Linked DNA regions of Homo sapiens. The protein of the gene in region 1 interacts with the protein of each later gene in a pairwise test. Each region holds a gene or a part of one and is shown on either strand. Other genes may lie near its edges.

Region 1 (3,076 bases):
AACTTGATTTTGCAGAGCTGAACTATATAACTAGTTTAAGATTCAAGGATGACGGTAAGTGAAGTTATGGGAAAATATACTACAAACAAGAAAAAAACAAAATAACCCCAGGAAATGACAAATGATTTATGGAGGATATGGAGAGACTAGAACTCTTGTGCACTGTTGGTAGGAATATAAAGCGGTGCAGCCACTGTGAAAAACAGTCTGTTACGAAACTTTAAGCACCAAACTTCTTCAAAAAGTTTAATATAGACCAGGCATCGTGGCTCATGCCTGTAATCCCAGCACTTTGGGAGGCCGAGACAGGTGGATCACTTGAGCCCGGGAGTTCGAGACCAGCCTAGCCAACATAGTGAGACCCTGTCTCTACAAAATCAACAAAAATTAGCCGGGTGTGGTGGTGCACGCCTGTAGTCCCAGCTACTCAGGAGGCTGAGGTGGGATGATCACCTGAGGCTGGGGAGGTCGAGGCTGCAGTGAGCCATGACTGTACCACTTCAAGACTCCAGCCTGAGTAAAGACCCATCCCAAAAAAGAAAAAGAAAAAATTTTAACATAGAATGACCATATGAGCCAGCAATTCCACTCTCAGTTATATACTTAAATGAAAACAGGAACCCAAACAGCTAGTTGTACATCAACATAAACATTATTAACAATAGGCACAAGGTGGAAACAACCTAAATATCCATCAACAGATGACTGGATAAACAAAATGTATATACATACATAAAAAGCAATGATATTCAATGGTACGCTGTCATGAAAAAAAGGAATGACATTTTTGATACGTGAATGAACCTTGAAAATATACTACGTGCAATAAATCAGACACAAACGGACAAATATTGTATGATTCTGCTTTATGAAATATGTAGAATAGGTAGATTCATAGGGACAGAAAGTAGATTAGAGGTTACCAGCAATTTGGAGGGAGAGGAAAGAATGGGAGTTATTGGTTAGTGGGTACAGAGTTTCTGTTTGGGGTGATGAAAGGGTTTTAGAAATAGACAGTGATGATGGTTACATAACATTGTAAAAGTAACTAGTGCCACTTGAAAATGGTTAAAATGACAAATTATATATATATATTTTTTTACCACAAGAAAAAGTCTCTGAATTTGAATAAAATTGTTTAATGAAATGTGAAAAGAATAGATGAAGTATAATACTTCATCATAGCATTATTTATATTATTTACATGGCTTTATGTTATTTATATTTATATCAATAATATGGTATTATAGTATATAATTTATTATATATTGTTATTACTATTAATCAATAGGGAATAACAAATTATGGAAAATCCATACAATATAATACTATACCAACACTAAAATGATTGAGTACAAATATATTGATTGGCTTGGGAAGAAAACACTATAATCTAGTGTATATATGTCTGTATATATAAATATGTAAATATATGTGTGTATACACACACACACCACTAGAAAAGATTAAAAATAAAGAATACATTACTCATTCAATAATAGTTGTCAAAAGAAATGAAAAAAGCAGAATAGAAGCATAAAATATGTAAATAATAGAAAAAAATGACAAAAGATAAAAATAAAAGTTATAAAAATAAATAAACTCTCAGGTTAGGTAAAAATATAAAATCCAACTTCATGCTGTTTATAAGAAACAACTAAAATACAGTGACATGTAAAAAGCTTAAAGAAAAACACCAGGGAAAGAAAGAAAGCGGACATACAAGAAAGAAAGCGGAGATTATGCTATTAATAAAAAGAAGAATTTAGGGAGAAAAAGTATTAAATAGGAGAAAGTGGATCACGTTATACTGACAAAGGCAACAATTCACAGCAAAGATTAAACTGTTATGAAACTTTCAGTACCAAATTATATTGCATTCAAATGTATAAATAAGAAACTTGAGGCTCCAGAAGAAAACATATAATGGAATTAGTATGCTAGCGAGAGACTTTAATACATCCTATGCTTTGGCACATCAATGAGGCAAAGTATAAACAAGGATATATTAAGATTGAGCTTAACAGATACTTATTAAACTTTGAACCCTATATACAGAGATTCCATCTTTTCTAGTCCCCACGAATGACTAATAAAAATTAATCTAGGCCAGGTGCAGTGGCTCACACCTGTAATCCCAGCATTCTGGGAAGCTGAGGTGGGAGGATCACTTGAGCCCAGGAGTTCGAAGCTGCAGTGAGCTATGACCACACCACTGTTCTCCAGCCTGGGTGATAGAGCAAGACCCTGTCTCTAAAAATATAATAAAAATAAATAAATAAAATTAAAGATTAAAAAATTAATCAATTATTAGACCACAAAAATTTATATGCAGAAATTATAGAACCTTTCCGGAAGACTGTTTTGTAACCCATATCAAAATGTTTAAGAAAACAGGCTGGGTGCGGTGGCTCACACCTGTAATCCTAGTACTTTGGGAGGCCAAGGTGAGTGGATCACTTGAGGTCAGGACTTCAAGACCAGCCTGGCCAACATGGTGAAACCCTGTCTCTACTAAAAAAATAAAAATTAGCCAGGCGTGGTGGTGTGTACCTGTAGTGCCAGCTACGCAGGCAGCTGAGGCAGGAGAATCACTTGAACCTGGGAGGCGGAGGTCGCAGTGAGCCAGGATTGCACCATTGCACTCTAGCCTGGGCCACAGAACGAGACTCCGTCTCAGAAAAAAAAAAAAAAAAAGGTTTAAGAAAATGCATTTAGTCCAGTAATTCCCATTTTATGAAAATTTATCCAGAATAAATCATTAAGAAAATATACAAAAATGTAACTACAATATGCTTATTGAAGCAGTGTTTATAATAGTGAAAAATTGAAACAACGTAAATATCCAACAATAGGGAGAGGGAGGATGTGATCAAATAAATTATTTTACCTGCATACAATGGGATATTCTGTAACCATTAAATAATGTTGTAGAATAATATTTAACAAAATAGGGCCCTAGCACGGTTGCTCACGCCTGTAATCCCAGCACTTTTTGGGAGGCCAAGGCTGGCAGATCATGAGATCAGGAGATCAAGACCATCCTGGCTAACATGGTGAAACCCCATTTCTACTA
Region 2 (3,837 bases), on another chromosome or scaffold:
AATAAATAAATAAATAAATAAAATGAACAAAAATAAAATAAAGCTGTCTTAAGTCTAAGTGAAGCAAGTATGAAATTGTCTAGGTACATTTGTTGAGTTTACAAGGGCTATATCCATTTCACTTACCTTTTCAGAATCTGTACCTGGACACCTCCAATTGTACAGGTAATACTGCAAATTGCCATCTCCTATACCAAACTTGAGTTTTTCCAAGAATGTCTTATTTTCCATCAAATCCAGTGCATTGAATACATCAAATCCTTTCTGCCAATTTAAAAAAGATTTAAAATTTAAAACAAAGGACTAGTGTTTTCTGTATTACATATCTCAGTTTAACAATTCTACTAATAGCTCGAATATGCATTTCTAATAGGATTTAACGTCCGTGATATATAGCATAGGTTAAGAATTCAGGGCCGGATGCTGTGGCTCATGCCTATAATCCCAGCACTTTGGTAGGCTGAGGTGGGTGGATCACTTGAGGTCAGGAGTTCGAGACCAGCCTGACCAACATGGCGAAACCCCATCTCTACTAAAAATAACAAAAATAAGCCAGATGTGGTGGCGCACACCTGCAGTCCCAGCTACTCAGGAGGCTGAGGCAGGAGAACTGCTTGAGCCTGGGAGGTAGAGGTGGCAGTGAGCCGAGATTGTGCCACGGCACTCCAGCCTGAGCGACAGAGTGAGACTTTTTTTTTTTCTTTCTTTAAAAAGAGGAAGAATTCAGTTGAAAATTGTCTTATAAAACTAGCAGTGTGGCTGGATGTGGTGGCTCACGCCTGTAATCCCAGCACTTTGGGAGGCCAAGGTGGGAGGCTCACTGGAGCCCAGGAATTTGAAACCAGCCTGGGCATAGGCTGTAGGTATAGGTGTAGGTGTAGGTACAGGACATTGTCTCTACAAAAATAAAAAGATTGACTCGGCATGGTGGTGTGTGCCTGTGGACCCAGCTACACAGGAGGCTGAGGCAGGATTGCATAAGCCGAAGAGGTCGAGGCTGCAGTGAGCTGTGATTGTGCCAGTGCACTTAAACCTGAGCAACAGAGTGAGCGCCTGTCTCAAAAAACAAACAAACTATAGTGAATCCAATGAAGTCAGCATGAAAATTCAGAAACGCTGAATCCCAAAAATGTTAAAAATGTAGTATGATGGCTGTCACTGGCATAAAATTACTTATGAAGATTTCAGAAAATATTTTATTTATGTTTTATTTATTTATTTTTAAATTTTTTTGAGATGGAGTCTCACTCTGTCATCCAGGCTGGAATACAGTGGCATGATGTCGGCTCACTGCAACCTCCACCTCCCAGATTTAAGCAATTCTCCTGCCTCAAACTTCCTAGTAGCTGGCATTACAGGTGTGCACCTCCATGCCCAGCTAATTTCTTTGTATTTTTAGTAGAGACCGGGTTTCACCGTGTTGGCCAGGCTGGTCTTGAACTCCGACCTCAAGTGATCCACCTGCCTTGGCCTTCCAAAGTGCTGGGATTACAGGCATGAGCCACTGCACCCAGCCTCGTTCTTGTTTTAGAAGGGAACAGTTGTCAAGATGGTTTCATCTCCAGGATTATTAATTATTAGCCTTTCTAAGTCCTACCTTGGCTGAAGCTATTGCCCAGGGACCAAAGTTGTAAAGACTTTAAATAGTATGCAGGCCGGGCGTGGTGGCTCACGCCTGTAATCCCCGCACTTTGGGAGGCCGCAGCAGGTGGATCACCTGAGGTCAGGAGTTCGAGACCAGCCGGGTCAATATGATGAAACCCTGTCTCTACTAAAAATACAAAAATTAGCCAGGTGTGGTGGCACACACCTATAGTCCCAGCTACTCTGGAGGCTGAGACAAGAGAATCACTTGAACATGGGAAGCAGAGGTTGCAGTGAGCCGAGACTGTGCCACTGCACTCCAGCCTGGGTAACACAGCAAGACTCATCTCAAAAAAAAAAAAAAAAAAAAAAGTATAAAAAAATAGTATGTTTGCTTTGGGCTGATAATGGGAAATATATTTATGTAAAATTTTAATGGTAAAAAATTAAATTTCTTTAAAATGTCAGACAATAATACTATGCAAAATGTGATATAGAAGAAGCACTTTTTATTTTTATTTCTCAGGGTTTTTACCTTAAATAACTAATTACTGGCCATATTTGGGAAGTGTTGAAAAAAAGCAGACAATCTGAGGATGATGTTGACTTGGGGATCCAAAGGCACAGGTAAGAGATTTTTATTTTATTTTATTTTAATTAATTAATTAATTTGAGACAGGGTCTCACTCTGTGGCCCAGGCTGGAATGCAATGGTGCAATCTCGGCTCACTGCAACCGCCAACTCCCAGGTTCAAGTAATCCTCTTGCCTCAGCCTCCCGAGTAGCTGGGATTACAGGTGTGTGCTATCACACCCTGCTAATTTTTGTATTTTTAGTAGAGACAGGGTTTCACCATGTAGACTGGCTACAATTAAATTTTGAATTTCATTCCTTTAATTTTAAAATTCAGAGACTATTTGGTTGAATAAAAAAATTGCTGCTAGTTATTCACTCAACAAAAATATTCACTCATGTATTAATATTTTCCTTATATTACTTCCTAAGATATGGGCTTTATATATATATATATATATATATATATATATATATATATATATTTTTTTTTTTTTTTTTTTTTTTTTTTTTTTTTTTGAGACAGTTTCTGTCACCCAGGCTGGAGTGCAGTGGTGCAATCTCAGCTCCATTGCAACCTCTGCCTCCCAGGTTCAAGCAATTCTCCTGCCTCAGCCTCCCGAGTAGCTGGGATTACAGGCACACACCACGAAGCCTGGCTAACTTTTGTATTTTTAGTAGAGACGAGGTTTCACCATATTAACCAGGCTGGTCTTAAACTCCTAACCTCAGGTGATCCACCCATCTCGGCCTCCCAAAGTGTTGGGATTACAAGCCTGAGCCACCATGCCCAGCCTTATATATTCTTATATAAGGATTAAACATTTATAATTTGTACATTTTGTCTTTTTTGTTAAACTGCCATAAAATTAATGATGAAAATAGCCTCTAAAGTTTCAAAAGAAACTCTTATCAAAATTCTTCCTTTGACTGATGATCAATAGTTTTTTTAAAGTCTCGCATAAATTCCACCTGTGTGGAAGAAAACACAGTAAGATGTCTTCTATAGTTTGGCACAGACATTTGGAGAACCAAACGGCGTGAACAGGAAGGAGTGGCTTACCGATTTAGCCAGGATGAGCGCGTCGCTCATGAGGTCCAGCAGGGGCGTCTCTGTGTGGATGTTGTAGAATGAGTAGGCGGCTTTGAGGCTCTTGTGAGCAGGGTGGTGCATCACCGTGGAGGGGAGCGTATAGAAGCTCAGGAAATCAGTCAGTTTACCGTTGGGGCTCTAGGAGCAAAAGTGCTGTCAGACAGAGATCTCCTTGAACCAACTGCATACGTGCATTTCCACTAACTCTGTTCTCTCCCTTGCCCCAGAGAACGAAAAGCAGTAAGTCACACTTCTTTCTCGGCAGTCCAATTTGGGGCCCCTTATATTGTGCTGTGTAGAGGCCAAGAAGGGCCTGGAGTTGGGACTTCAGCCTAAGTGCCCATTGGTGATTTGCACAAAGTTCTTAGGAAGCAGAATGTCATGCCTGTAATCCCAGCACTTTGGGAGGATGAGGCGTGTGGATCATGAGGTCAGGAGTTCGAGACCAGCCTGACCAACATGGTGAAACCCCATCTCTACTAAAGATATGAAAACTTAGCCAGGTGTGGTGGCGCACACCTGTAATCCCAGCTACTTGGGAGGCTGAGGCTGGAGAATCGCTTGAACCCCAGAGGCGGAGGTTGCAG

Evidence for each region.
Region 2: the proteins of ANXA4 (region 1) and NMT2 interact in a two-hybrid assay, tested with the Homo sapiens proteins (one large-scale study listed by BioGRID and IntAct).

Annotation. Positions count from the first base shown.
Region 1 is NC_000002.12:69,821,825-69,824,900, forward strand, and holds part of ANXA4 (annexin A4), read left to right. Parts: intron 1-3,076. UniProt on the Homo sapiens protein: Calcium/phospholipid-binding protein which promotes membrane fusion and is involved in exocytosis.
Region 2 is NC_000010.11:15,109,576-15,113,412, forward strand, and holds part of NMT2 (glycylpeptide N-tetradecanoyltransferase 2), read right to left. Parts: intron 3,389-3,837; coding exon 3,221-3,388; intron 2,212-3,220; exon of another isoform or gene 1,953-2,211; intron 265-1,952; coding exon 127-264; intron 1-126.